Linked DNA regions of Homo sapiens: regions 1, 3, 4, 5 and 6 are each linked to region 2. Evidence: fine-mapped expression QTL. A gene starts in region 2. Each other region holds a variant in brackets. All regions are shown on one strand. Distances are between the middles of the regions. Region 1 overlaps TRAM2 (translocation associated membrane protein 2). Region 2 holds the start of TRAM2 (translocation associated membrane protein 2). Region 3 overlaps EFHC1 (EF-hand domain containing 1). Region 4 overlaps TRAM2 (translocation associated membrane protein 2). Region 5 overlaps TRAM2 (translocation associated membrane protein 2). Region 6 has its middle 35 kb from the start of TRAM2-AS1.

Region 1 (5,074 bases), 35 kb before region 2:
CGGAACTGGAGGCAGAGTGTCGCCTTGTTTGGCCTCAACTGGGAATGTGAGTGTTGGGCAACCCAAAAGTGTTTGCAGCTCTGCACATCTCTGTGAATGACCAAAGAAGCTGATTTGGGGGTTACAAATAAATCTCAGCAAGTAAGCGAATTTGCAAAAACAAAATCCACAAATAATAAGGATCAAACGTATCAGGGAAAACCTGAACGTCAGCACCATGAGGGCCAAGATTTTTTTTCTTTTTTAACAACTGTATTCAGGTATAATTTACACAACAAAAAAAAAAAATCACCCATTTTAAGTGTACAGCTCTAAAGCATTTATCTTTATTTTTAAACTGTCTCTTCCTTGGGGAAACATAAGCTGTAGGAGCGTGGGGATCTGACCTGCCTTGATGATCTGACTTGCCTTGTTTGAGGTGCACATCCATGGATGGCTTCAAACTGCCCCAGAACAGAGCGGCACTCAGCAAATGCTTAAATGAACACAGTGACTAAGCAGGAGAGAGTCGGTGCTGTGCTCAGCTATCTGACCCTCATCCTGTCATCTGTCCACGATTATTCTTCTCTGTATGTCTTCTCTCTCTCGGTCTGTCCCAGAGCTGGGTGAATAGTAGGTTTCTCATAAATTCCTATTTGACAAACTCATACTGTAAGCAGCTATAATATTTAGTGACTACAGATGAATGCTTAACATGTTTTCTGAACATGATTCTGAGAGAACAGGATCTACGGCCATAATCATGACAAAAATACTAGATCCCAGTATTTTTCCATCCCTAGCCCCCCTGGTAGTAGCAGCAGAAACCATTCTAAAAAGTGCAACTTTCTCTGTAAACAGCCATGCTTGCTCCCACATTACCATATCTCAACAAGATGGTGTCAGTTTCCCTGGTTTATAGATGAAAAAGCCAAATTTGGGGCACAGAGAGATAAAGTAGCCTCCCGAGACCTCACAACTATACAAGCAGAAAAGGCAACATTCAACTTGATTTTTTAAAAACCTTGTCCCAAAAACAAACTTAGGAGGCACACAATACTGCACATAGAATAGAATGGTAATGTAAAATGGAAGCAGGAAAGAACACAAAAAATATGCATTTTAGGCAAAGAAAAGAAGCAAGGAATGAGGCTGATCCACAAAAATGCATTCCAGGAAGTCCTACTCATTGGCTAAAGGTGGCCAGAAATTTGGCTCCAAGCTTTTCTGCAGCCACCTGAAGGAGTGATCAGCTTCTAGATTGACCACATCCATCCATTAAAAAAGCAAAAAGCACTAGTCAAGAGCAGACTTACTTCTTCAGCCTTCTTCTGTGCCTTAAAAGGTCCTTTAGCACCCCAAGTCTTCACTCCATGACCCTCTCCCGACCTCAGACTAGGGATGAAACCACTAACAAGTCCCTCTCCGCAAGCACCAGCTGAGTTCCTGTAGCACACAGGGCTGAGAACCAGGAGCCTATTAAAAATGTCATTCCAATTATTTCTCATCCCTCTAAGGCTGTTTATAGGAAACATTATTGAGTTTAATAGCATTTTAAATGCCAAGCTCAGTGGGTAAAAGGTTAAAAGTGACAACGTGCTAATACACTAATGTAAAAGGAGAACACTGAATTATGTAGGAAGGGTCACATCACACACACACATATACACAGAGAGAAAGAGAGAGTGAGAAAGAGAGAAAGTTTCATTAAATTTTTAACTAAAACAGGGCATCAAACACAAAGGCAAAGGCCTTGAGCATGCTTGTGTAGCCATAACAAACCAAAACTGTTTCACATGCCATGCTGTATTAGGGGCACATGAACCTGAGCTCTTGGCTGCAACTAGACCAAGGATGCTGGTGAAATAGCTGCTTCCAGCTAAGCATAGTGGATGTGGATTCCAGTCCCAAGTCTGCTGTGGGCCAGCTGGGTGACCTTGGGCAGGACATTTCACCTCTCTAGACCCCAGTTTACTCATCTATTAATAACGACAACAACAGTTAATGTTATCGAGTGCTTATTTGGTGCCATGCATGAGTCCAAGGGCTTCACATAAATCTATCTCATGTCATCCCCACAATGACCCTACAAGATAGGTACTAATCATGTCCCCATTTCACAGATAAGCACGGGAAGGATAAAGCCAAAGGAGCAGCTCAGAACGAATGTCCTTAAAGGTCCTTCTCACCCTCAGCTCGAAAAGGTAAACTTTACCTGATTCTACTTACTTTCCAATGCCCAAAACGCAACCTTACACTGACAAACTTTCTAAGAGGTCTTTCCAGAAGTTTAAAATATATTGTTGCTTCTTCACTTTGTGAAGATAAGGTCTGGGTATCACCTATGTCTGACAGAGCAAGAAAATAAGGCCTCTCGGGTTAATCCACCACCTGCCAGCCACAGGCACTGGGTACACCTAGGCTTCCAGATGCCCAGATAGGTTCTCCTTTCACTGCAAGTTGTTAGCTGGTCACCAAAGATAAAAGAGAAGAACTGTGATGAAAGCAGTTTCATGGCTTCTCTTTTAAAGTATTAAATCCTTTGGTTCAGTTTATTCT[G/GT]TTTTTTTTTTTTTTGGCAGACACATCCATGCATTGGCACTTGGAAGGGGCTGTGTGGGCAGACCAGCCCCCGGGGGCAGACAGGGTACAGAAGGCCTTATTTTACAGGAGCAGCTCTGCTCTTAATGACTTCTGTCCCACGGACACCACACCTCCCACCTAAAGGACAAAACACAGAGACACATATGTCCCACGACTGACAGTGAGGACCCTCATTTTTTCTTCCTGAGAAACACAGGGTAAAGCCAAGTGACAGGTCCTGCTGAGGCTGGGAAATTAGGTACCTAAAACTTCCCTTCTTCTCCCAGCTCGGCCTGTTTTTGGAAGCCAAAGGGTCTTCACTAAGGCTTTCCCCAGATTGATTTTGCATCTTTCTGCGGAGGAAGTGAATAGGAAAATTTCAGGCAGACAAGAAAACCTTGGAAAGTTACGCCCAATTGGTGGGGAAGAGATTTTTGGGTTTTTTTTTTTTTTAAAAAAAATAGTCTTTTAGCCTTTTTTCCTGGAGTGTTTATGTCCCAAGCCCACTGATCACCTGCATGCGCCAGGTATGTGGTCGGGGTGTGATGGACGTGGGTTTGCAGCCCCTCCACTGCTCGATAAAAGGCAGATACAGCTGAAACAAAGATGCTTTTCACTTGTGCTTTCTGAAAATCTCCGTTTTGAAGGGCCAGAGGCTGTCTGTGAGGGCTGAGCGCCTGAATCACAGGGGGCAGAGTTATGACAGTACCTTTCTGTGTGGCTTTTAGCAACGCCTAGAGATTCTGGTTTTTCACCTGAAAAACTGCCTTGATACAAAAATCAGGCAAAGCTAAACAAACACGCACACAACAGATTCTCTACAAGCCTGTGATCACGATGTTGAATAGACTCACTATTAACAGTTTTGATAGCAGTTTTAGATTAAAAGTGACATTGTGTATTTATGAAAAAAACTCGAAATTTGAATAGCCACAATAAAATTATATTACTTGGTTTGTTACAGTCATTGATTTAAAAGTCTAAACTTTATATTGGGATACAGAGGAATGTAGAAAGAGTCACAATAAAGGGTTTAAAAAATCTTTGAAGTTGGGCTTTTTAAAAAAGAGAATAAAGCTTGAACTTGCCATAATATACATCCCCAATTTGGGAAATTAATCGGGTACTGAAAAACAGAGGGTGGCCTAGGGAAAGCCCTTCCCCACTGCCTTTATATCCACAAGTTAATTATAACTTTAAGAAGACTGTGTATTTATGCAATTTATGCTGGTATAGCTTGAACTTGGCCTTCTACGTGCTTTATAGATAGCCTTATATAAAACATACGAATTTGCTGAAGTAAATGTATTACTTCTTTGAGAGCCTTAATATATATATTCTCATCCTCCCCTAAAAAAAAGCACTGACTAGGTATTTCTAATACTTACCACTTGATTATATACTTCACTCTCACTCACACCCACCTGCCCCCACCAAGTAGCTTTTCCCCTTATCTGGATAGCATAGCATACTCATAAACCATTCCTTATGGAAGCTAAAAACTACATAAAAAATTTTAAATGCTCAGGCAAAATAATTTTCCAGAATAGTGACATTCTTAATATTTATTTCTCCTGCATCATGGGGCAGAGTTCATATTACTGGTTGTGTTTGGATATGAGTAAAACACACATTGGTCAGAACAAAATGTTTTTACTTTTGGCCAAAAGCCACCTGTTCTGATGCAGTATCATTGATACATTAAAAATAATAACATAAAAAAGAAAGGATTATGGAGTGAAAAATTTTAGGTTGTGAGTTATTTTTGGAGAGTTCAGATTAGGTAATATTTTAGACTTGACTACAGAAAAGAAACCCCTCACCGGTGTAGCACAGTGTCATTTCAGCTGTAGTTTTTAAAGATGTTTTCGCTCCGTAAGACAGAAAGCAAAAAGAGAGGAGGGTCATTCTAATCAGTATAGATGTGTCTGCGACATCCTGTCTGTCACTAATCTTCAGCAAGCAACAAGAGTGGGTGCCAGGGAGAATCATCCCCAAGGAACTTCTGGCATTTCCTGGTATTCAGGGAAATAAAAGGATTATTCAAGGTCTCCACATACTCAGGGTAGCTGGACCAGGCAGGACCCAGGTATATTTGCCTTCATTTGCTTGTTTGCTCTTAGAGAAAGCCAGAGTTGGCAGACAGTGACCTGCTGCAACCATTTCAAATTATTCTCCACCACCTTGAAAGTTTCAAACATCAGCATGTTGACCCCCACATTTTGACTGAAGAGCTAGGCACGTGGATTAGAGCCTGCTAAGAAAATGAACCATGAGTTCACACAGCGATGGAGCAGGGTGAAGCCATCTCCGGGGGCCATAAACCAGGCCCGTCAGCAGGGCTGCAGGCCAATTCTCACAGGAAGCCTTCAAATTCCTCTGGGTATTTGTGTAGGGGCACATAAAGACAGGCCTTGACCCTGGATGTCAACCTCCGCCTATCATTAAACTAAGCAAACTGAGGCCGGAAAGTGAAAATATGAGTTTTTTAAATGTTAGATGTGTGATCTCTGTG
Region 2 (5,074 bases):
GTCACTTCTAGGAAAAGGGTGGTGAGTCCCCAGTTGCACCTACCATCGCACCATATGCATCCCTACATACCCACACATGCACACCACACACTTCCAGAGAGAAACCCAGAAGATCCTAAGTGATATCCAGCCAGTCCTGTGCTTGGTTATGAGGCGTCTCCCCAGGCTTTACTCTGAGTGTGAAGATGCCCACATTTGTTTCTCTGTGGTACCTACAGTATCCAGGACGCTTCTGCTCTCATTTGATAGAGGCAGCAGTTCCAAACTCCCCCTCCCCACCCCCAGGAATACTTATCTCTGTGGAGAGTTAGTTAGTCGGTGGGTAAAGACAGTGAGGCCCCCACCATGTGCCCAGCACAGAAGAACACAAGACCTTCTTACTGGAGGCTTAGGGCAAAGCCCTCTTTCTCCCAGAGAAGCACAGACTGATGATCTCACAAAGTACCTCCAAAAGAAGGAGACACCTGCCCTGTAGGTCCTGTAGGTTCAAGGTGCTATGGGAAGAAGTGATGGGCTTGGCAGGAAAAGGGGGCCTGTAGGCATTTCAACCAGGGGCCTTGCTACACTCCCCAATACAAGCCTAAGGGGGAGGAAGAGTAGTTTTGTTTGTTGTTTTTCTCGTCTTGGGCCTTTCTCTTTCACCAGATACTGGAAGTAACAGCTCTTAACACCTTTCAACTTTTAGAGTGGCAGGTTTAATGCACAGGACTTTCCATAAGACTAGAGACCCAGGGAAGGAGGTAGGTACCAAACTCAAATGCTGGCAGCCCTTTCTGAGCAAAGATAAAACAGGGAGGGCCACAAACCCTAACAAATGCTAGAAATATGACGGAGAGAGCCACAGGCTATGCGAGAAACTTCGTCGCTGCAGCCTGTGGCTTTGAGGTTTACAGCTGTCACGTGTATCTTTCCAGCCACACCCTCCAAGGCTGGGGACACGCACTTGGAGGCCTCTTAGAATGGAGGACAGCAAACAGACAGCAGAGAATGCGCTGGGCAAAGGAAATTCTGTTATTTTGTTAAGCTATTATTATGATAAATAATCACAGGGCTCCAGGCGCAAGAGACTTTTTCATGTTGGTAGGAGATGTTATGGCTTTTGTTGCTGATATGATCTCAGTTAAACCTTACAACCACCCTGTGACGAAGACCAGTTTTATGAACGTCTTTAATGATGGGGAAACTGAGGCTGCAGTCAGTTTTCAGTCAGACTAGTCACAGAACAGGGACTGAGACACACGGATATGACTCTGTGTGACACCACACACTTCCAGGGGAGAACCCAGAACAAGGTGGAGCAAGCCCGACCCAATATACCACTAGAGAGAGCTGTGAGAGGGAGAGGAAGGAGAGAGGGACTGAACTAAAGGAGCACTATCAAAAAGTGGAGTGGAGACCCCAGTCCTAGCACCACCGTTTATTTCCTACAGACCCTAAAGCTCAGCCACGGACACATTCATTCATCCAACCCTGACTTGGCCACCACAAGAACGTTCCCAGCTTGAGGGCAGCTTCGCCAGCCAATTAGGGCCCTTGTCATTCGTAGAGATACAGGGAACCCGAGACAGAGGGACAGGGAAGGAAATTTAGCCAGGCAAGCCATCCTCCATCTCCAAGGAAGTTTGTAAATGATCACAGCTTCCTAACCCAACCGTGAGAATGCAATAAGCAAGCTGACGCAGAAGGGAGGACAAGGAGTCTCAGGAACCAGAGGAGACCACGGTGAGAGTGAGGGGAATGTCGCTCACATATCTCACTTCTGAGACAAGATATACCGCAACAAACCCATGCCAAGCTTCCTCCAGTTCTTCCCACTTTTGAATATCACATTTTTCTTGCTCTGCAAGAGTAGGGAATCCTTCCCATCAGTCTTGTGAATTCTGACCCCTTGCTGGCTTTCTACAACTCCCTGCCTGGGAGGCCGACACCAGGACATTGCTGTTGGGGGTGGGATCCCCATCCTCTGCCCCCCACTCCTACACTATAAGAGAATCAACTTTCCCCAAAAAGTGGAGGGTATCCCTGTCTCTCTTCTTGTCTCTGTAAAGGGGGTGAAGCTCTGGGTCGCCGCAGATGGATCTAAAGGGACAGTTCACGGAGTGGTAAAGGATATCCAAAAATTGGCCTTCTAGAGCACAGCAAAAAAGTGGGAGCGAGACGAGAGCAGAAGGCCACTGCTGGGATGGGGCCAGGGCCACACGTGAACATCCGAGCACGTTCCAGAGCTGAGATGCAAAACACCCAGAAAATCACATAGGAAGTGGAAAAGGTTCTGGGTCTCTCCCACTGGAAAAGCCCAGAAGAGCTAGTGGCCACCCCTTGGGGCAAGAGGGGGTTGTGCAATGACTGCGGGTCTGGGAGTCTCTGGGCTTGGCTCCTGGACGCCAGAAAGGGAACCCCACGCGTCAAGCCATGGTGGCAGCGCGGCGGTTGGTTCGAGGCCAGGCTGGGGTTTCAGGGCTGCAGACAGAGCTGCAGGATACGATGAGTGCCCAAGGGGGCGGCAGAGCATGGCATGGCTGGCACGGCGCGGAGCTGGGGGTGCTGTCTGGGCTGGCCGGGGTACAGGCCGGAGGGGTACAGTGCACAAAGCCGGGGTGCAGATAACGTACACGGCAGCCAGGAGCCTCCGATCAGAGGAGGGCCCGCTGACCTGCAGGGGTGTGCCGGGCGGTGCACGACAGGGGGCACTGTCCCTCCAGCTCCCTCCTCCCCAGGCTCTCACCTCGAACATAAGCCCGATGAGGACGCAGAGCACCAGGCAGAAGCCGATGTCCGCATGGTTGTGGATGACGAACTCCTGGCTGAAGAGCGGGTAACTTTTCGTCCTCCTGCGGAAAGCCATGGCAGCGGGCGCGCAGCGGCCGGCGGGGCCCGCACCCTGCGCTCACGAACCGCAGCGCAAACTTCTCCAGCACCGGCCCGGTCCGCCCGCCGGCCCGCCGCCCGCTCTCCCACAGCCGCTCGCCCGCCCAGCGCGGAACAACTTCGGGGCCCGCCCCCTTCCTCCGCCCGCCCCCGGCCGCCCGTAACCGCCCCCGGCCGCAGCCCCCGCCCAGCCCCCGCCCAGCCCGCGGCCCGCACTCGGCGCGCCTGGCCCCGCCCCCCGCGGGCTTAACCCTCTAGCCGCTGGGCACGCGCGGGCTACCGGGGCGGAGGCGTACGGGGGCGGCGAGCGGGGCTCGGCTCCTCCTCGTCCCGCGCCAGCGCCGCGCCCGGCCGCATTCTCGGGGCCCGAGGCTCAGCCGCTCGCGGTGGAGAAAGCAGGCCGCGGAGGAGGCGGGCGCCCAGGCCTGCCCGGACAGGAAGTGGGCCCAGCTTTCCCACTCCTCGCTCCGCTCCTTCCTCCGCGGGAAGGGCAGGCCCCGGAGGCAGCGAGCGCCCCGGGGGTGGCCGGGCAGCCGGATGCTCCCGGGGTTGCGGGCTGTGGCCCCGGGGGCTGAGGGCGGCGCGGGTGCGGCGGAAGCAGGGAAGCCGCGAACCGGCCTTCTGGCTGGCCACAGCGCCCTGCACGGACGATCAGTGAATGGAGATTACTCAAGTATTTATCGAGAACTTGCAGTGGGCTAGGCACAGTTCAGGTAGATCAACAAACCGAAAGACCCTGCCCTAGGGGAGCTTTCGCTCCAATGCGGGGAGAGGGTGGATGATTGCAGTTTTGCCCAGTAATTTTTGGGACCCTCATGCCACCATTAATTAGCTACACACATTTCACCGAAAGTCTACCTTACATATTAATCAGAAGAAGTGGAAGAATAAACACAGAAGAAGCAAAAAAGGAAGGAACTTTCTCACTGAAAGTTTCTATTTAATATTAAGTCTTAAAAGTACTCCTGGAAGGACAAAAGGTGTTCTTAATAAATTATATTCGCAAATATTGGATTTAATCCTACCAGTAATGAAGCAGTCAGTTACTTTCTAGATGTGCAGAAATACGTAATGAACAAAAAAAACTAATTCCTATTCCATTTTTTATTAGGTCCACAGTTATTTCACTTCTAAATAAATATGGTTTTTTAAAAGTGGCACGCGGTGGAATGTAATTGAGACAGGATGGAGTTCCTAGAGAAATTTTACTTCCTCAATCTGCACTCCACCTTACTTAAAATACAGTCTTGGGTCTGTAATTCCCTTATCTGACTCTCAAGGAAATGACAAAGTAATGCCTAGATTGGACTAAACCTCATTTAACTTCAAGGCTGACCTTTCTCAAAGTTGAACCTTCGTCTTGTGAGGAACAGAAAGATCAAGAACTCTGAAGCACCTCGACTTTCCACCTGTGAAGATGTGTTCAAATTTGCAACGTGCGGCCACACCTATGAGGTTGAACTTTATACAATTGGTTTCTTTATAGGTTTAGATGGTTGAATTTAAGTTACCCCCACTGCTATTATTATTATTTTGAGACAGAGTCTTAACTCTGTTGCCCAGGCAGGAGTGCAGTGGCGAGATCTGGACTCACTGCAACCTCTGCCTCCTGGCTTCAAGCAATTCTCATGCTTCAGCCTGTAGCTGGAACTACAGGTATGTGCCACCACACCTGGCTAATTTTCGTATTTTTTAGTAGAGGTGGGGGTTTCACCATGTTGACCAGGCTGGTCTCGAACTCCTGACCGCAAGTGATCCGCCATTTTTTGAGACGGATTCTCTGTTGCCCAAGCTGGAGTGCAGTGACGCCATCTCGGCTCACTGGAACCTCCTCCTTCCAGGTTCAAGCAATTCTCCTGCCTCAGCCTCCTGAGTAGCTGAGATTACAGGTGCCCTCCACCCCCTGCTAATTTTTGTATTTTTAGTAGAGACAGGGTTTCACCATGTTGGCCAGGCTAGTGTTGAACTCCTGATCTTCAGTGATCCACCCGTCTTGGCCTCCCAAAGTGCTGAGATTACAGGCCACTGCACCCAGCCTTTTGCTACACATTTATACTAAACTATATTATGGGGCAGCACAGTAGGTTTGTTTACACCAGCATCACCAGAAACACGTGGTTAATGCATTGCGCTACAATGTTACAGTGGCTACGACATCACTATGTGATAGGAAATTTTCAGCTCCATTAAGATCTTATGAAACAAC
Region 3 (5,074 bases), 78 kb before region 2:
CAAACTGGCCACCAGGGAGTTGAAAGATTCTAATACACACACACACCCACACACACACACACACAAAGAGAGAATGAGAATTATTAAGATTAGCACTGGTAGCTGAAGCTATCAGGTCTAACTGAAGCATTTGACTAAGACTGCTTATAGTGCTTACGGCTTTGGGACTAATAAAAATCTGCCTTGCGGGTAAAGATGGGCTGTGAGTTAGCCACTACTCAGAAACCTGGGCCTGTACCTTGTCTGCACCATCAGGGGGCCTTGAAAATACCATCCAATTAAGGTGTATCAAATCCATATCTATAGGCTTTGAGGGTATTTGGGACACATAGGTAGAGAAGACGTCTCTAAATGTTGTCCAGAGAATCCACTTGGTTAAGTGACTCCTGAGTATCCTGCTGGCACATAAGTTCATTTTAAAAAGCCAATATGAGTGCTTTATATGTACCATGAACTTAGCATTCAGTATCTCTAAATCTCTCACCATGACTCCCCACAAAACATGAAACCCTTTTGACACAGATGCACAAAAAGACTCGGAAGGGTTAACTGCTTGAGTTCACCTAGCTTCTCATGGCAGAGCAGGACCCAACTCTACAATGAAGCTTGCCATGCATCAGAACCACTCACCTTCACCTCAAGCAAACATTTCCTCTTTCTCACACCCCATGGGTGTCCTTGACTAACTGCCACCTGTAACTGCACTCATCTTTTGAGATCTTTTTCCAAAGAAAGATGGTTCTGGTAAACACAGCAAGCAGCTACAGCCAACAGCAGCCATGTAAGTGACACCAGCAATCCCCACTATTACTAATACTTGGATGTCTTCTAGTCAGCACCAACATATTTGTTGGCCTTTACACAAACGAAACCCCATTTCCTCCAAGCTAAATAACATCATAGTATAGTAGGCATCAAGGATGATGTGCTTGTTTCTGGAGCTTCCTACCCACAAACCCCATGTTAAGAAAACCTCTTTTCCACTTTACTATTAAAGAGTCAAATAAAAATGATGCTTATTGCTATCCAGCACTTGACATAACTGACTCTCCATCCTTAATTCCCTAATTCATATCACAATGGACAAATACGGGTCAAAATATATAAGAAATGACTAATATAGTGAAAAATAATAGACATGAGGGCTAAAATTCATTGCAAACTCCTTTAAGCAAACGTAAACATCCACGTTAAAAGCATCACTGTATAAAAGCACGTCAAGGAAATAATTATGAGACAATTCTGATAATTTTCTGCCTTTTATTGTTATTTCAGAAAATATTTGATCATTTGTTCCAAAATGTACATTTAAAAAATCCATACAAAACTGTAATTTGTTTTAAAACCAGACAGAAACAGTGGAAAAATGATTTTGAAAAAAAGTTCACCAAAAGCAAAAAGACACCCCTCCCCCCAACCCTTTTTTACATGAAAGCATAAATACGGCAGGTACAAATTTTCCTTGAGTTCCTTGTTGAAATTTGGTCCATATGAACAGGCTAGAGTAGAAAACAGACACTTTGTCCACATTTGCATTATCAGTTGCTCAGGGCACCAGCAGCCTTAGTTCATCCTTCAGATGTTTTTTTAAACAGAGGAACCGAAAAATGAGGTTTACAGTCTCATCACATGAACACTCAAATCTGTACCCAAGGAAACAGCGGTATTATATTTACTGTCACAGCTAGACCCTATCAGGTGAACAGGGCTCTCCACCTGCGGCTGTTGCTTCGCAAAATATCCTTCCTCTCCACGTGAACAAGTAGCTCTAGAGTGCTTTTAGGCAGAGTGACGGTGATGTCATGGGCACCACGCCAATCTTATTCCTGGACAATGACTTAAGCCCCATCGTGAGAATGGTTTTTTCCTCTTCAACACATTTTTTAAAAATAGACCTCTAAGATGATGCTACATGTTCTAAAAGAGTGCCACAGAAACCCACCCAGGATCACAAGAATGACAACAAAAGGAAAGTGGCTATTTCTTGTGTAAGGGATGACGACTCCCCCTCCCATGGGTCCCATTTCTCCCCCAGTTGCAGGTGTTTTAAGGGACAGAAAGGCTGTGGAAAGGACCACTGGCTGGGAGAGTTATTGCACAACCCGGAAGAGTGAGAAAAACGTGGGCGGGCAAGGGGTAGGGGAGAGGGTTGCTGCGACTAAAACAAGGTAACACTGAATTAGGAGCTCGAACAGTTCTGCAACAGTCAGACATGTATGTGTTTATGTGTTAGCACTTGGAGACTGGGAAGTAAAAGTAAACACCTTTATCATATAAACTTTGGGCTGAATGGGAAGCAAAATAGACCAAAAGAGGTTACGGCAAGTGGGCCTTTTAAAAAAAATCTGGGGGTGGGGAAAATAACGGAGAAGGAGTTTGCTATGTGGGGCCAGAGGAGAGTTTTCGAAGTGGGGGCTGGAAGCTCTGGGCTTCTCTTAATAGGTATGCTTGTGGTTGGGCCACCTCACAGACTTCCACAGCCACCCAGCTGGGCCAGAAGAGAACTGACACAAGGGAGAAACCAAAAACAAAACAGAACACACCACAGACCCTAATCCTGGGCAGCGGGGTTAGAAACAAATGGGGTGAAACTGTCACAATCCGTGTCCCTTTTATATATAACTATACTGAGGTATGGTGTCCTTGGCTGCCGTCGAGCCCTGGCAACTGGGGGCTGGCCACGGAGTACAAGTTGAAAACCACACAGCAAAGTAAGGCACTTATTCTCACACACAGGCGCACGCACGCAATCTGCTTGGGACAAAAAGTCTACAGGGGTTGCCAAGCACGAAAGGCTACATGGAGACTGCAAATCCCAATGCTCGTCTTTATAGCTCTGCCACTCCAGGGAACTCCATAAAAGAATGAGGCAGCTTTCACTGGGGAGAACTGGTCTTCAGCCTTTGCAAGGTGGAGCTAACACTCATGTGAGTAGTGGGGTAGAGTGAGAAGTTGGTAAAGTCTTCCTCACTGGGACAACCTTGAGCTGGAGAGAGATC[C/T]TATTTAGGTTTTCCAGTCATCTGACAATGACCTAATCCTCCAATAATCCTGAAAATCCTCTCCTGAGAAAAGGAACCATAAGCTCGGAAGGCAGAGTGAGGGAGGAAGAGCACTCCATTGTCTTGACTCAAAAGCTTTCAGCACTCCCTCTGTTAGAGGAGAGAGCTTAGAACATCAAGAATTGAAGTTTGTGCACTTGTGCCATAGGCCCTTAAGCAAAAGAATTAGTTATGTGCAGACTTCCCTACCTCTCACACCAGGCCTAGAAAAACCAACTAGGAAGGCTGAAGCATACAAAGGAAACCCAAGCGAAGGCCTTTTCTAGGCACAAGGGGGTCGGCAACCCACTTCCAATTAAAGCATCCATGGAAGATAAGAATTTTGTTGTGGAATCCTGGGAGGAGATGCACTCTTTCACCCAACCTCTTATTAGCTGCTTAGAAAAAAGAAGGGGTACTGACAAAGGAGGTCCCAAAAGAGACCCCAGAAGCACACACCCACCCCAAGCTTCAGGGGTTCTTAGGGTCCCAGGGTTTCCGGTCAAGAGAAGGATCTGTGAACGTGGCCAGGGCAGAGGTGTCTATTGGGGTTTCTTAAATGTTGGGAAGTTATGCCTTGGGACATGAACAGACAAGTTTCTCAGCAACCATTTCGGTCTGGTGGCCCAGACACACATGGGATTAGAACTGACTCAAAAGGGAGGACAGCAGATCCCCCGCCGGCTCAGCCTGCTCCCCTCTCACCCAGAACCATCCCCTACCTTCAAAAGGAACACATGCAATTTATTAATAGTGCAGCTATCAGCGCCCGGATGGTAAAAATAACTCCCATCATCACTGCACCTCCAAGGAGGGGAGCGGGTAGCACAGATCCTTGGTCCACCAGCGCCACCTCCCTCTCCTCCTGCTGTGTCTGTTGGCTTCCCCACAAATGTAAGTTAGTTAGCCAGGGCTGTCGAGAGGCCACAGTTGCTGGGGTAGGTTTACGTCTTTTCTCCTGCTCTTGGTGCATGGTGCTGAGCTCTCAAGCTTGGAGGTGTCTGGCAGAGCCTTCACAAATGGCTTGGCACTTTGGGGCAGGAGAGAATGCATAAAACTGAAGAAAACAGCCAAAGTGGCCAAAATTAGAACAAGCTAGCCCAACACGCTCATAGGATGAAGTGGAATTATTTCAGCTCTGGCAACACAGTCTGTGTCAACCTGCCACAGACTTGGCTCTGCTGTGAAATAAACGTGCCAGGGAGGGTGGCAGGGGGAGGGGGGTGACAAAGTACCCTACAACTACCCTCTAACCACCCCCCCCAAACATCCCTGAAGCCCAGGCTGGCAAGATGCCAGCCCCACTCATGGTCTCAGGGTTTTTTTTTGTTTTTTTTTTTTTTTTTACATAAAATAAACCCTTAGCACACCCGTCCACTGGGAAGCAGAGCCTAAGCTGACCCCGGCCACTGGGCTGGTGGGACCACATCCAAGGCATGAAGTACTGGCAGCACGGGGAGCTTGCAAGAGACAGGGACATGAAGTTGTGGCGTCTCTGGCACGCAAGTGTCCTGGGACAGAGCAATGGAAACCTACAGGCATGAGAATGAGGGTTGCTTGATGGCAAGATTTCAGCTGCTCTGCTCACACTACCTCTCCAGCAACTGGCACAACGCAGGCACCTGGCACATCCCAGCATGCCATACATATCTGTTGAAGCCACAACTCAACAGTTTAACCTGGACTCACCTGAGAGAGGCCTCCTGCATGTGAAGCCCTGCCAATGACACAGCCTGGAGAGCACCTAGGATGGGTGTTCTCTAATGGGGGAGGAAGGTGGGCTTAGGAGGCTGCTGGCTGAACATGCGATTTGCAGTTATTAGGCAAGGTGGGGGGCCTGAACTCAATTATAGACTCTGTCAGGGCTGTTTGACTAAAGTGGCTAAGGGATCCCATATCAGGTCTGCTGTGTTGAAACCAAACTGCCCTTTTACCAACGTTTCTGCTGTGCAGCCCAGAGAAGTGTCAGGGAAGGAGAGGGAGAAATGGGGGAAATACATATTTTCAAAAACACTGTCTCACTTCCTAAGGGTAAT
Region 4 (5,074 bases), 67 kb before region 2:
CCTCGGGATTTCCAGGCACCTCGGCAGAAAGTTACACACAGTGAGCTCTGTAAGTGCCAGCCTAGAGAAAGTGTGGGGTGCTTTTACTGCATGGATAACACTCAGCAAAAGCCCAAATTATCAATGACACAGCTTATTAACATCAAAAGGATTCTTTTCATAAAAGAGGCTCTTCGAGAACTAATATTATAGCAATTCTTTCTGCCTCTAGAACAACCAAGAGAGACCTACTCTCCATGTCATTATAAACCAAAGGGAAGGGAATTCCAGGGCTACGAGCTCTAGCAGTGTTTGCATTGGACACTGTGAGGTAAGAGCCCAGCTTTGGGAGGCCTTCAAGCTGCAAAGCCATGGTTCAAAGGCCGACATCCACTGGAAGTCTTCCTGGCTGTCTCTGTTGAGGGTCTTCTTCTGGGTTGCAGAGCAGATGATACATACTGTGTTATGGTGTTCATCACTCTCAACTGTCCTTACTTATGTCTATAACTGTCTCTTCAGAATGAGAATGAACCACTGAAGATAAAGAATCTTCCATTACCATCTTTGTATTGCCAAGTCTTAGCATAGTGCTAGGCACACAGAGGATGTCAACAAATGCCTGATAATTATATGAGTGTGTGGACAGATGCATGGACATAAAAGGGCAAGGAAATCTGGCTGGCTCCATGGTCTCACTCACTTTAAGAGGTATGCTCCAGCTATATGCACCAGGTACAGGCAAATATACTGGAGCTGGCGGGGAATTTCCTCCTGGAAACAAGAGAAGCAGATGGTAAATTTGCTAATTCCCTAACTGAAGATTCAGGGAAGGGGGAAAAGTGCAGGGGGATGAGAGAGGGCCAGGCTCCTCTGGGCTGCTTTAACACACAGTCCCATGTCCCACGAGTCCCACAGTCCCACTGCACCAGGCTGCTGAAATTCAAGGGCATTCAGGTCCATTCCCAAATTCCAGCAGCCTTGGGTCTAGTGTCAGAGGGTGAGGTTTGGATTGAGAAATAAGAGACAGGGACTGGAGAAGAGGGCTCTTGGAAATAATTCAGAAGGAAACTATAAAAAGTAAAAATAAAAAAAGACTATGGAAATGGCAAAGACCTCTCCTTTGACATCTATAAGATGAGAGTTAGGTTTCCTCCAAAGCCACAGGTCTGGTGGAAGAGGCAGGCAAGAGACTGACACTGGTGGTCAACTACATGACACTTCTCCAAGAGATGACTCAGCATGTTGCTCAATCCCCAACATATTCCTATCACCACCCAACACTCCATGCTTCTGGAGAAAAGGAAGGGAGGTACCCCTGGGAATAGCAGGAGGGGAGTGGTCAATGAATGGCCTCCAAGAAGGGAGAGAAGTGAGCACTCACCTTCCGTACCTTCTGGAAGTATAGCTCAGGAAGTGCGTGCAGCCAGTAGGCCAGCTGGCATAGGTAGAAAAACTTCACCTGGAAGCTGGAGACAAGGGGGCAAGTCACACGGGCAGGATAGAGAAAAGTGTCCCTGCAGGTGCTGGCCAAGCACAGGAGGGAAAAGCATGGGCTGAGACTCTGCCTGTGAGGAGCTGGTCCAGGAGCAAGGGAGTTAGGCCAGTGACCGCCGCACCCTGAGCCTGGGACCCTGGCTTCTCCATTGGCCTGTGCCCTTGTTCCACATACAAAACCACTTAAAGGACACGGAAAGTCCACAGAAAGAAACAAACATGATTAAAATAGTGCAGAGGAGGAGGAATCCTTCAGCCTTGAGGAGGGAGCTGATTACAGAGCACTGTTGGAGATAGGGACCAACAGATACACTGAGACAACAAACAGCTCTAAGTAGCAAGGGAAGGTTCTAACTCAGCCCTACATCCTTTGCTATTATTGCTCTTAAAGATCTCGGGAAAGGCAGCCAGGCGTGGTGGCTCACGCCTGTAACCCCAGCACTTTGGGAGGCTGAGGCAGGTGGATCACCTGAAGTCAGGAGTTTGAGACCAGCCTGGCCAACATGGTGAAATCCCATCTCTACTAAAAATACAAAAATTAGCTGGGCGTGGTGGCACATGTCTGTAATCCAAGCTACTTGGGAGGCTGAGGCAGGAGAATCGCTTAAACCCAGGAGGTGGAGGTTGCAGTGAGCTGAAATCATGCCATTGCACTCCACCCTGGGCAACAAGAGCAAATCTCCATCTCAGAAAAAAGACAAAAAACAAAGATCTCGGGAAAGGCAAAGGGTGGCCTCCTGAGGGAGATGGCCCCAGGTATTGCCCTTGGGGTACACTGCCCTCTTGGCAGCACTATATGAGGCAGAGGACACTGGCTCTGACAGACCACCAGCCATGGCAGGCCAGAAGGGAAGACACTCTGTGGATGTCAGGGGGTCGCCAAGAAGGTAGAAACCCAGAGGGCATTATGGAGAGAGATGTTCTGCTTCTGAATCTGTCTCATGCAGTTGAGGGACCTCTGTGATGGGAGCCAGCACAGATGGAATTTCATCTGGGGATTCTCTGGTCAAGCATGCTGAGAAGAAGTGGCTTCCAGACAAGTCTACCATCCACAATAGGCTCAGGGCATGATCTGCTCGTCAGGCCAGCTGGGCCTGTGGTGTTCTGGCCACACTCCGCTGGGACAGGAAGGCAGTGGGCCCGGTCGCTCCTCCCTGGGGCTGAGTCAACAGAA[T/TAC]ACTCACGGGAGGTGCACATGCGGGTAGTCTTCCCAGAGGCTTCTTGGGTTTGTTAAGTATCCTTCCTGCAGTGGGCAAGAAGAGAGACCATTTAGAGATGTGGACGTGAGACCTGCTGGGGCCCTGGGACCGGTCCAGGGGTCAGGGATGCATCCAGTCCCCACCTGACAGAAAGAGGAAGGAACAGGAAATGTGAAAACAGAGAACTTCTCTGTGTGGGACCCCTGGCGCTTGGCTGGTTTCTTTACTGTGGAAGAGTCATGCTGGAGTAGGAAGGGCCACGCTCTGAGGTCCAACGACCCATATCTGAAGATGAGTCTGACAAGCGAATTAGTCTTGCTCCTCTGAGCAAGCTAATTAGTTTCCCTAAGCCACAGCTGGCTCATCTGCAAAACAAAATAAAAATACCCACCCTCACAGAGTTATTGTTGGAAATGAATGGGATAGTTTATGTGCCAGTGTCTAGTCCTGTGCCTGGCATGCAGGCGCTCAGGAAATGCCTCCATAATGAATAAGCAAATGAACTCTAGAATCACCACTCGCTGGAAAAATGAAAAGCCTACTTTGGCTTTTCACAGCCTGCTGAATAAAAAACATGGCAGGACCCCATAGGCCTCACCATGCAGCTGGACTCTGACACCTACCACACTGTGTCATTACTGTCAGTTGTTTCCATTACTCTTGCAAGTCCCTTCACACTAGGGCCTTTTCTTGCCTATCTTTAGAATTCTAACATGTAGTCCAGCACCTTATATGGGGTGGGGATGGCAACATGAAAATCCTTCCATCACAAAACATCTAGAAATGCTGGGTGAAATCTAATGAATATTCTTTTAAATGCAAAGAGCTGAGCTCACAGTAAGAAAGGGAAACCCCCTGGGACCCAAAGGGAGAGGGAGGCTAAAAGGCAGAGCAGTAAAGTGACACTGTAGCAGCCCAAAAGGCACTAGTTATGGGCCAGGGTTTTTGTGCCCATGTGAGAACAGAAGATGGTGCCTTGGGAGGTGGAACCCAAGACCTTGTATAAGACCAGGACCTCTGAAAGGCCACAATCTCAGAGAAAGGAAAAGACTAGAAAGTGTTTGCTGACCAACACAGGGAAATGAAGATGTCTGCTCAGCCCATACCCAAGGTGAAAACAAAATCATTTATTCTAAAAATCTGCAACCTCAGGTTCACTCTGAGTTTGGAGGTGAAATATACTACCTGTGTGATCCAAAAGCCGCCAAGGTAAGAAATTAGAATTAATAGTGTGGTGGGCCAGTGATACCCTGGGGACATACCCTCATCCAAGGATGCTCCACAGATAAAACCTTGCTAAAGATGAATTTATAATCCAAGAGTACAAAGCATGGGAAGAAATAATCTACCACAAGCAAGAGTCAGCTGAAACTACAGGAGTGCAATACACACCAGTTGGTTGAATGAATGAATGATGAATGCTTTGGGCAATTTCTCTCTTCTGAAGAAAGGGCTCTTATTTGTCACTCAGAGAAGGCAGAGCAGATTAGATTAGGATGACTTCATTTTAGAAATGGGAAAATGAAAAAACAGATAGGAAGGATCTCCTGAAATAAGATAGTTTTGTTTTGTTTTTTTGATATGGAGTTTTGCTCTTGTTGCCCAGGCTGGAGTGCAATGGCACGATCTCAGCTCACTGCAACCTCTGCCTTGCAGGTTCAAGCGATTCTCCCGCCTCAGTCCTCCTGAGTAGCTGGGATTACAAGCACGCAACACCACACCCGGCTATTTTTTGTACTTTTAGCAGAGACGGGGTTTCACTATGTTGACCAGGCTGGTCTCAAACTCCTGACCTCACTTGCCTCGACCTCCCAAAGTGCTGTGATTACAGGCGTGCACCATTGCGCCCAGCCAAGATAGTTTTTCAGTAGCACAGCTGAAATCCGAGTTGGGCCACAAGCCTTCTGGTCCAATAACTTCAGGCTAGGTTGCTTCAGTAAATCAGAAAATCAGCTGAGCTGGTGGCTTTGATGAGAAGGCTGAGAACCTCAGATGTTCACACTGGGATTAAAGGCAGAGGTTTTACAGTGCTCAGAATGAGGCCAACAGGGTTTAGTAAGAAGCATTCTAGGTTATTGTCTATTAGGATCTTTAGTTGTATTTCCAAGTGAGGGCTGATCCACCCACCTTTGAGTCACTAAACGCCCTGTGACCTATCAGCATGCCTTTCGGGTATAGTCCACGGCCCTAATCCCACAAACTTGGGCCTCCATGAGCACAATAACCTGACTGATAAGTCCTTTTATCGGATACATCTATACCACTGTAGTCACAGTCACCTGGATTAGAAGGAAATGATCTCACTTCGAACTTACATGGCCTCATTTCTAATCTCTTCTCACTACCACTCTCTCCTCCCTGGGTCACGTGCCGATTGAGGAATAAAAGTGGATGAGGCTCTCGGG
Region 5 (5,074 bases), 24 kb before region 2:
ATTTGGCTTATTACAATCAGGAAACGTCTGTCCAAAAGTCCTATTCTCAGAGATGGTAGTATTTCAGGGACATCAGTTTAGCTTTGCCACCCTTTGATTGCCTGTTGTCATATATGAGGTAGGAGTCAAACAGAAGGCAGAATAGCATCTGTAAGTTCTACTGGGCTGCACAATGCTCCATCCTACCCTGTGTCCCAGAACAGACAGCTTCACCTTTATGGAGTACTTCAGTGGGCTTCCGATGGAATCTGCAGAACATGAGAGAGCATGAAAGGGGTATTCATCACCTGGCTCCTTTCCTGCTGGACAGTTCTGGCAGTCACTGCAACCCTCCACCAAAACTCCAGCCCCTCCCCTTCAACCACAGCTCTCAATGGTATTTCCTCTCTCCCTTCCTTCTTAGTTCTAGATCCATGCTATCCTCAGCCCCTTCAAGCTTAGGGATAGCTCCCCACGTTCGCAAGCCTTAGAATGCTTTACTGTTCCTTATCTGTTTCCCCTGAGCCAGTCCACGCCCTTGTTAATAGTGCCTACATAACCATTCCTCAATTACCCCACCTGTTTCCTGTTGGGACTCTGACTGATGGAGATATGCTACTCAAATAAAAGAATACTAACACCATATGATAATAATTAACCTCATCAACGTAACTGCTGGCAATGGGACACTATTTTTATTTTTTATTTTTATTTTTTTTGCGACAGGGTTTCACTCCCGTCATCCAGACTGGAGTGCAGTGGCAAGATCTTAGTTCACTGCAGCCTCTGCCTCCCAGGCTCACGTGATTCTCCTGCCTCAGCCTCCCGAATAGCTAGGATTACAGGAATGCACCACCACACCCGGCTAATTTTTGTACTTTTAGTAGAGATGGGGTTTCATCATGTTGGCCAGGCTGTTCTTGAACTCCTGGCCTCAAGAGATCCACCTGCCTTGGCCTCCCACCTGCCTTGGCCTCCCAAAGTGCTGGGATTACAGGAGTGTGCCACCATGCCCAACCGAATAGGACACTTTAAACCAGCAAAATTATCCTCCACACACATCCTGGTACTACCCCTCATGAAACGCATGGGAGGCAGACAAATCGCCACTCTTTATGGGCCATCTAATTTCCAAAGGACCAACAGTGTTGATAACCCACTTCAGAAATGGTTTTCTTTAGGCATGACACCCTGGGACTGGCTTCTCACAAACTCAGATCAAGATAAACCACTGTGGTGGACGAACAGTTTCCTGCCTGAGTTTTTCAAGGGGGCCTTTACTGAGGCAGGAGGAGGTGAATATAGGATTTTGAGGACACCACTGGCCTCAGGCTGCAGTGACAAATATGAGTCCTGGCTTCATGAACACTCGATCACATAGCTTTATTATTTTGGAAAAACATATCCGTTATGAATGGGGACTGGCTCTACACTAACCAATAATGTCTCCTAATTAATATCTGATCTGTTTCAGCCCGGAAGGCAAAGGATCTTTTACCTTTATGTGCTCAGAGTGCCACACAGGGTTGCTTGGATGTAGGGATTACGCTGCTAGTCCCTAGCCATTTACCTCCCTTTCACAAAGGGATTCTTTCTAACGTTTTCAGGATAGAGCAGCAACTGGAGTGAGGGTGGGCATGCAGGGGAGGGTGAATGAGGGAGGAGAGAAAGTCTGCAAACAAACGGGCCACTTATCTCCAGGAGTCTTTCTACCTTTTCCTACAGCTGAGTAGCTTGGGGGCAGGTTGTCTGCCAAGCTTCCCTGGCCCGTGTAAACACTCTGGCACCAGCTGGGGTTTGGAATCTGCTGAGTCTCTGCCAGCTGGCAACCTGGAGATGGGTCAGATTAAAGGAATGCATAATGAAGAAGTGGGTGGGAGACAGAGGCTGTATTTACACAGAGGGGGTCTGCAGGGGTCAGTACGGCGCTAGCCAAAGGGGCCTCTGGAAGTGGAAAAATAGGAAGGGAAGAGGAAGGGGTTTCAATGTGCCCAAGCACCATGCCCCACCCAACTGGCCCAAGACTGTTATGTTCATTTATTTTTTTCCTTTTAAAAACTGACTTCTTTGTCCCCTTCTCAGTCCCCCACAGCATCTCCCAAGCCAATTACACACAGCCCTTTGAAAGGTTTGCAGCTGGCCGCTCGAGAAGGCTCAGCGTGATCAGACAACACGGACACTTGATCTTCTGAGATCCCAATTTGGGAACGTTAACACGGAAACCCTAGCCACGTGCTGACAAGCAGGCCCTGGGCCACATTCTGCCCCAGACTGAGCCCTGGCAAGAGGAGAGGGCACAGATAGCCAGCAGTCTCAGGCAGCCATCCTGGCTTCCAGCCTTAAAGAGAGCGAGATTCCAGGCTCCTCCCCCATGCAAAGCCCAGGGGGCACGGATGCAGAGAGGACAGCCCTGGGACAGGACCAACAGGCTCCCCAGCCCTTTCACTACCCCGAGGAGGCAACGAAGACAAGAACAGACTGAAATCTGTTGGGTACTTGGTGGCCACACCTGCTAGGAAGGCCACCTGCAGCTCTACTGAAGCCCATGCAAATAGGTAAAGCTCAAATGGCTGTACATATATTACTAAGAGGAAGCAGAAGGGAGAAAAGTGCAGTGAGGAGGCAAGAGACCTGTTCCCTGACAGCTCAGCCACAAACCCGACGGGCTGCTTCCAGCTGCTCCCATCCACCTCACTGGGCCTCAGAGTTCTCATGTTTTAAGGGTGTTCTCTGAAGTCCCTTTGTATCCACGGATTCTTCCCCATGCTTCTGTGACACGGCTTCACTTCCAGGCTCCCAGTGCAAGCCTCAGCTCTTCTTGCTTTCTTGGAAATCTCTGCTGTAGCAGCCACTTCTATTCCGG[C/T]GACACTCAGATCTACTTTTCCTGCTGAAATCTTTCTCCCCAGGATGGGAGGTGGGAGGCTGCATCTTTACCTACATAGTGCATGATTAACTCCCGTTCAACATGCCAAACCTGGTGCCCAGGAGAAAGCTCTATACTTGCCTATGTCCCAGGCTGCAGTCAAAGACTCCCCACCTTTCCTTATAGCCCCTTGTTGGCTTTTTCCTTTACTATTTTATTAAATCCATCATTTCTACTCCCAATGCTGCTAAGAGCTTCATATTCTCATTTGCCACCAGCCTGTAGGAGAGACTTCTAACTGGATCCTCAGCCTCAAGACTCAAAACCCCTTCCTCCCCTCCCACTATCCATAGCTAGAATAGCCAGGCATATACACACAAACATACACGCACACACCACAGCCCCTCCATTGCCTTCTGCTGCTTAAAGGATAATGTCTAACTCTTTAATCTGGCATTCCTAATCCTCCCTGCCTCTCCACATTTGATTATCACAACTTTCCAAACTAATATGATAGTCCTGGATGTCCTAAAGGATATATTAAGGATATTATTCCATTAAATACTCTCCAAGATCAACAAATGTATTTGGTAGAGAAATATGTAACTCATTAATACTATATGAAGGCTCTGACAAGTCCTGCAATAAAGAAACAGTAAAGAAACAGCCTAGCATTTCCCAGGGCAATCTGGCCCAGGAACCCTTGTGTAGCAGCATGTGTAGTAGCCGCTTTCTTTGATTCTCTGAATGTCCTTTCTTGCCTGCACTCCAGCCATCTGCTCTGCCTTCCATTTGTTCATCTGCCTTGGCTTTCCTTTGAGAGCCTGCTCCAGCCTCACCTCCTCCTTCCTCCTCCCCATTCTACCATCACTCCTCTTGGCTGCTTCCTCCTCACACCTGAAGCACTCACTGCCTGTACCTCTTTGTTGAGAGATAGTAGAGCACAATAGTTAAGAGCCCAGATTTTGGATTCAGAAAGACCTGTGTCAAAATCCCAATTCTGCCCTCACTAACTCTGAAATGGAGTTGTTCAGTTGCTTGGTGTAGACAGAGATAGAATCCATAAAGAGGACTATGGAGGGGACTAGTGGGATTAGAAGGTCAAATGTAGCACAAGGCCTAGCACATCACAGGTATTCAATAAATAACAATTAGTCATTCTTCCTCTTGTTTTTTATCATTGCTTTGTCATTTATCATTTTCTGGGTTCTCCTGCCCCTACCCTTTGCATAAATCAAGCTTAACAAATACGTGCTGATAAGCCACCAGCAGCAACAGCTCCATCTTCCATGGGACAGCAGGAAGACACCCCAACCTGCCAGCCCTGAGCACACCATCCGCCCCAGCACACCATCTGCCCCAGCCTACCAGCCCTGAGCAAGAGGCTCTCCCAGGCAATCAAGTCCTAGAACTTCACAGAACCCCTCAATGTTACCACCCAGCCCTGTCCCCACCGCCTGTTTGCTTACTGCACCCCTGGGAAGGGATGCGGAGGCAGGGCATCCCACTTTGGTTTTGAAAACCAAAGTGGGCCAGGCGCGGTGACTCCCACCTCTAATCCCAGCACTTTGGGAAGTAGAGGCAGATGGATCACCTGAGGTCAGGAGTTCGAGACCAGCCTGGCCAACATGGTGAAAACCTGTCTCTACTAAAAATACAAAATTAGGCGTGGTGGTGCGTGTCTGTAATCCCAGCTACTCGGGTGGCTGAGGCAAGAGAATCGCTTGAATCCAGGAGGCAGAGGTTGCAGTGAGCAGATATCATGTCACTGCACTCCAGCCTGGGCAACAGAGTGAGACCCCATCTCAAAAAAAAAAAAAAAAAAAGAAAGAAAGAAAACCAAAGTGAACAGATCTCACCCAAACCCAAAAGCTGACTGGGTAACTTATTTCCACAGCCTCTCAATGGGGCAGCAATGGGCTACTGTGTTGGGGTTTAAATTTTTCAAATTTTCACCATTTCAACAACCATTTCACCAAAGGCCATTTCATCCATGTGCCTTGTGTAGTTAATGTCTAGAAGTAAGAAGTTACATTTCCACTTAGAGTCAATCCTTTTTTTTTTTTTTTTTTAACAGAGGGTCTTGCTCTGTGGGCCAGGCTGGAGTGCAGTGGGGTGCAACCACAGCTCACCACAGCCTCAACCTCCCAGCCTCAAATGATCCTCCTACCTCAGCCTCTTCAGTAGCTGAGGTACACGCCACCATGCCGAGGCTGGTCTCGAACTCCTGGC
Region 6 (5,074 bases), 36 kb after region 2:
GTTACAATCTTTTGCAACCCAATAATGCAACTGGCATACCCTCAACATCATCATATTCTAAAATTTAGAAGCAAGTTACTTAAGGTAAGAAGATTACACAAGGCTGTGCAGACTAGAGAATGGGGATCACTGGGAGTCATCCTAGAGGTTGCCAGCCACATGTGTTAAGAATTTATTCAGCATCCCCTAGCTGCCTGACACTGCTGGGTGTTGGGACTGTAGTGATAAACATCCTGCTCTTATCAGAACTTGCAATAAAGCTGGGGGAAGGGAGGAGACATTAAATAGATTATTGCAATTGTGATAAGCACACTAAATAAATACAGGGAATAAAAGACGCCCATCGTTGTCTAGGTTGAGGAAGATAGAATGTTAGGCAGGGAAATTTCAGTGGAGACTTGAAGGACTGGCCTGACAGGCAGAGGGAATCCGGAAGCAAGAAAGATCATGCTGCAATTGGCAGAAGAGTTGCTGGAATATAGTTTGAGAGTGGGAAGACCAAGAGAAGGAAGTGGGGCTTATCTGCTGCTATGTTAAGGTGGGTGGTCCTGAGAGGTGACATAGAAGTCCCCTTTGGCCACCTTTCTCCTTGTCCTGCAGGTCATCTCTCCGCTGGCCTCTGGACTGACTGCTAGTCCTGAGGTTGTGACCATGCTTGGACACTCCTGACTCCTCTTTGTCCTGTAACAATGTCCTGCTGATATTGTACCAAATGATCCCACATGGCATAGTATTATAGCAGGACAGGTTCTTCCTTCTACATATCGTATTTTTTGAACAGTTTTCAAACAAAACTAGACATGATATACCCCTAATATATAAAACAGATAAAAGCAGAGCCACTTAGATCTGAAAGTTACAAGAGGAGAAGGGCACTCGGGAACGTGTTCCCCCACATTCCCATGGTGGTCCCCAAGCGACCCCTCTGGAGCTCTAGGACTCTGCAAATTCTCATTTGAGAGGCACATGTGTAGGCCACAACATTGCCAATGGTTGCTCTCAATGACTCATTCATTTGATTACTTGTATTTAATCTTTATGATGTGTCAGGGATGAAGTAGGCACTGAGAATACAAAGGTGATTAAAACAGTCTCTGCCCCTCTGTAAACTCACTGTCTAAGGAGGGATTCACACGGATAAGTGAATGCTGTGGTGTGAATGTGTCCCCCAGAAGTTTCTGTGTTGCAAACTTAATTGCCATTGTAACAGTATTAAGAGATGGGGCCTCCAAGAGGTGATTAGCCCATGAAGACTCTGCCCTTATGACTCACTGCATTATAAAGTGATGTGCAATTAGAGAGGTTTGAGCAGCAAACAGTGGGCACAGGAAGATGTCACAAGCAGAGAAGGCTTAAACAAGAAGCCTGGTGGTGCCTGTCTTTGAGGATTTTTCTCTTGCATCTGAAATTCCTCCGTTACTCTGCCCATTTCAGACCACGCCATCTAGATGGCTTTCTGGAGCCGTTTCTCACTAGGCTAAAACAACTCTCCTATGCTTTTTTTTTTCTTTTGGGATGGTGTCTCACTGTTGTTGCCCAGGTTGGGCTGCAATGACGTGAACTTGGCTCATTGCAACCTCGGCTCACTGCAACCTTCATCTCCTGGGTTCAAAAGATTCTCTTGCCTCAGCCTCCTGAGTAGCTGGTATTACAGGAGCCTGCCAGCATGTCTGGCTAATTTTTGTATTTTTAGTAGAGATGGGGTTTCACCATGTTGGCCAGGCTGGTTTTGAACTCCTGTCCTTAGGTGATCCACCTGCCTTGGCCTCCCAAAGTGCTGGGATTACAGGTGGGAACCACTGCACCCAGCCAACTCTCCTATGCTTTAAGTAGAAAAGCCTCAATTGCTCCCCTAGGTTCTATAACAACCATGATGTTAGAAAGTTTGTATTAGATTTTAAATTTCTCATAGTTTCTGGATTGGAATAGAAAATGAGCAACTTTACATGGTTCTGTGCCCCAAATTGTCTTTCTTCACTTACAGGAAGGAAGGAGTGAGAACACTCCCTGTATCCTACCCTAGTATATTTCCTGCCTACCAG[G/A]GCTCTGCACAGATGAGGAACTGGCAGCCTTTGACCTCCTATCTGATCTCTGAGTCTTAGCCGTGAGGTCACCTATCAGGTCTAGCATGTTCTGTTGGTCTGCTGGATCCTGCCTCATGTATTTGACAATCCAGAATTCTAAGGTAAAATGGCTTGCATTTGCTGATTAATTATCCAGGGATTTGGCTAATCCTTCATGATGATGAACTAAAAGTCCCTACCAGTCCTCAATTAAAAAAAATATGTAATATTATTTAAATAGAGATGAGATCTCGCTATGTTGCCCAGGTTGGTTTTGAACTCCTGAGCTCAAGTGATCCTCTTGCCTTGGCCTCCCACAGTATTAGGATTACAGGCGTGAGCCATCTTGCCCAGCCGACACCAGCACTCAAACAGTAAATTCAGTAAATTTACAGCCCTAAAACTGTAAAGGACACAATGGTAGGCTGAGGTTATACAAGATCAGAACAACTGGGGCATTCAGAGAAAAAGAGTTCAGACCGGATGTTGGGTTGTACAAGCCAGGCAGTCTGTTGTTTAATTGTTTTATCTCTTGGTGACCATTTGGCATCTTTTTGCTTAGCCTCAAGGCATGTTTAGATAATAGCAAAATAATCCAGCCCAGCTCTCTCCTCCTTCATAAGAGCTTTCTTCCAACAAAGAGTGAGCTCTGTCTTTGTCTTACAAACTCAGATCACCTCTGGATTTTTCCATATCCTGTTAAGTAGTAGTATAGTATCTTGGGATACTTCTTAAAAGGTTTCATTAAAATTTTACACTGTTTTCCTTCTCCCGTGATGCACTTTGTCTGCCAGAGTAGATTGTAAGCTGTTTTTGGGCTCTGGCAATGCTTTACTCATATTGGTATTTCTTATCCTTTCCTATCTCCAGAATATTTAGCGCAACGTCATACAGGAAGTAGGCACCCTATAAATATTTGTGTATGAATGAATAACCATGGCGCTTTCCTCAGGCATTACACAGCCAGTCTCAATGACAGGAGGGTGACCTGTGGGTGCATTTGTGGGGGAAAGGAGTTCTGGCAGGCAGTCTGTGTGGGCTACATATGGTTCACAGCTGGCACACAACCTCTGTGGACCCCAGGTAGAGTATGTGTGAATGTCAACATCTCTATGCCCTTAAAAATATCCTTAATTAAAATTGTATGGAGGGCAATTACTATTCACTTAACCCCAAGTTGAACTACACATATCACTAGGCTTCACTGGAGCCCCTTCATTTTGGTGTCATCTAACCATTTGTGCCACATTTCACTTATTTACCCAAGTAAGCATTCTTTGGAAACAACCAACCTGAGGATTCTATTAAGAGCAGCATGGTTTTTATTTCCTTTCACTATTGCTGTTTACCTAGATGACAGGCAATTAGTTTCACCTCCTTCAACCTAGATGAAAAGTTGAAGAGCGAATAATACATCCAGATTGTCATGATGCCCTTATTCAAAGACAGGATTTGCTTTTTAGTGCAATTATAGAGACTGTGTGTTCTTAGCCTTGGATAATCCTGCCAGAAGGGGTTTAGACTTCTGTTCTTAGGATAGTCCTTCCCGGTTTTGTGACTGAGTGATTCTCTCATTCATCAGGCAACTTTCCTCCAGCCATTAAAGGTGAGAAGGACGGGTAATATTATGAATTGTTTATCAGGCTTATGGACATTATGAGAATGAATTGCTTTTGGTTTGTCCCTTTTGGAAAAAAGATACACCGTAAAATATGGATTTGTAGACTTACCATTTTCCCAAATTGGATCCTGTTCCTATTTCCTTTATTTCTAGCAATAGAAGCATTTTCTACTTGACAACCTTCCAGAGGCAGCCAGTCGACTCTTAACTAAGTCTTCCTTTTCAAAGTCTGTGCATCTGTCCTTTTTTATGTACCTCATTTAGTCACCTAGTGACTACTACAGAGCACGAGTGAAATGCAAGCCATTGTATTGGTTGCAAGGGATAGAAATAAGAATAACACTTGGTCTCCCAATTAGGAAGCTTGCAAAGCTCCGTCAGTGTCACAATTATCAGCTATATTCTCAAAATTTTTCCTCACACCCGGGAAAGTGAAGTTTCAAGTGTCATCTCCCTCCTGCAATCTCTTATTAATTTTCTCTATCAAGCATTCTACTGACAAACTAATATTCTTAAGCAAACATTTTAATCATGTCATTTCATGGATTGAACACATGGACACAGGAAGGGGAACATCATACTCTGGGGACTGTTGTGGGGTGGGGGCAGGGGGGAGGGATAGCTTTAGGAGATATACCTAATGCTAAATGACGAGTTAATGGGTGCAGCACACCAGCATGGCACATGTATACATATGTAACTAACCTGCACATTGTGCAAGTGTACCCTAAAACTTAAAGTATAATAATAATAATAATAAAAGGAAACATTCAATAGCTTTTCACTGCTCACAGGATCAAGATCAATCTCTCTTTCCTTTTTTTTTTTTTTCTTTTCTGAGTTGGAGTCTCACTCTTTCACCCAGGCTGGAGTGCAGTGGCGTGATCTCAACTCACTGCAACCTCCACCTCCCGGGTTCAAGCAATTCTCCTTCCTCATCCTCCTGAGTAGCTAGGATTACAGGCGTGTGCCACCATGCCTGGCTAATTTTTGTATTTTTAGTAGAGATGGGGTTTCAGCATTTTGGCCAGGCTGGTCTCGAACTCCTGACCTCGTGATCCGCCCACCTCGGCCTCCCAAAGTGCTGGGATTACAGGCATGATCCACCGAGCCAGCTAAGATCAATCTCTTAACCTGAATGTTCAAGAGTTTCTAAAATCTAAGATAACCTTATTTCCTGAATTTACTTCCCATAACTCCTCATTATACATTTTCTGCCTGGACAAATTGGTCAGATTACTACACTAAAAATATACCTCCATTTTTTTTTACTCCAGTCTATTCATCCATATATTTAAGAATGTACTGGATGCTGGGCATGGTGGCTCATGCCTGTAATCCCAGCACTTTGGGAGGCCGAGGTGGGCAGATCACTTGAGGTCAGGAGTTT

Evidence for each region. PIP is the estimated chance that this variant, and not a neighbour inherited with it, causes the effect.
Region 1: its variant is the best candidate, but not a certain one, in a credible set for the expression of TRAM2 in naive CD4 T cells (Schmiedel 2018, PIP 0.66).
Region 3: its variant is the best candidate, but not a certain one, in a credible set for the expression of TRAM2 in whole blood (TOPMed, PIP 0.63).
Region 4: its variant is the best candidate, but not a certain one, in a credible set for the expression of TRAM2 in esophagus muscle (GTEx, PIP 0.63).
Region 5: its variant is the best candidate, but not a certain one, in a credible set for the expression of TRAM2 in fibroblasts (GTEx, PIP 0.82).
Region 6: its variant is the best candidate, but not a certain one, in a credible set for the expression of TRAM2 in blood mononuclear cells (TOPMed, PIP 0.60).

The regions. Positions count from the first base shown.
Region 1 is chr6:52,539,265-52,544,338 of GRCh38, forward strand. All of the region lies in intron 1 of TRAM2 (translocation associated membrane protein 2), which reads right to left. Among named protein-coding and RNA genes, the nearest start is that of TRAM2, 35 kb to the right of the region's middle. The variant G/GT (reference allele first, on the strand shown) is at 2,539.
Region 2 is chr6:52,574,071-52,579,144 of GRCh38, forward strand. It overlaps TRAM2 (translocation associated membrane protein 2), which reads right to left and starts at 2,990. Exons shown (of 11, transcript NM_012288.4): 1 at 2,726-2,990. The coding sequence starts at 2,845. TRAM2-AS1 (TRAM2 antisense RNA 1) reads left to right here and starts at 3,132. Exons shown (of 3, transcript NR_103446.1): 1 at 3,132-4,323. RefSeq lists an enhancer at 396-445 and silencers at 796-845, 2,703-3,562.
Region 3 is chr6:52,496,162-52,501,235 of GRCh38, forward strand. EFHC1 (EF-hand domain containing 1) reads left to right here. Exons shown (of 11, transcript NM_018100.4): 11 at 1-1,037. TRAM2 (translocation associated membrane protein 2) reads right to left here. Exons shown (of 11, transcript NM_012288.4): 11 at 1,247-5,074. Among named protein-coding and RNA genes, the nearest start is that of EFHC1, 78 kb to the left of the region's middle. RefSeq lists a silencer at 1,653-1,854 and an enhancer at 2,938-2,987. The variant C/T (reference allele first, on the strand shown) is at 3,000.
Region 4 is chr6:52,506,874-52,511,947 of GRCh38, forward strand. It overlaps TRAM2 (translocation associated membrane protein 2), which reads right to left. Exons shown (of 11, transcript NM_012288.4): 5 at 2,655-2,713; 6 at 1,361-1,445; 7 at 680-750. Among named protein-coding and RNA genes, the nearest start is that of TRAM2, 68 kb to the right of the region's middle. The variant T/TAC (reference allele first, on the strand shown) is at 2,648.
Region 5 is chr6:52,549,871-52,554,944 of GRCh38, forward strand. All of the region lies in intron 1 of TRAM2 (translocation associated membrane protein 2), which reads right to left. Among named protein-coding and RNA genes, the nearest start is that of TRAM2, 25 kb to the right of the region's middle. RefSeq lists an enhancer at 2,347-2,516. The variant C/T (reference allele first, on the strand shown) is at 2,843.
Region 6 is chr6:52,609,923-52,614,996 of GRCh38, forward strand. No RefSeq gene overlaps it. Among named protein-coding and RNA genes, the nearest start is that of TRAM2-AS1, 35 kb to the left of the region's middle. The variant G/A (reference allele first, on the strand shown) is at 2,043.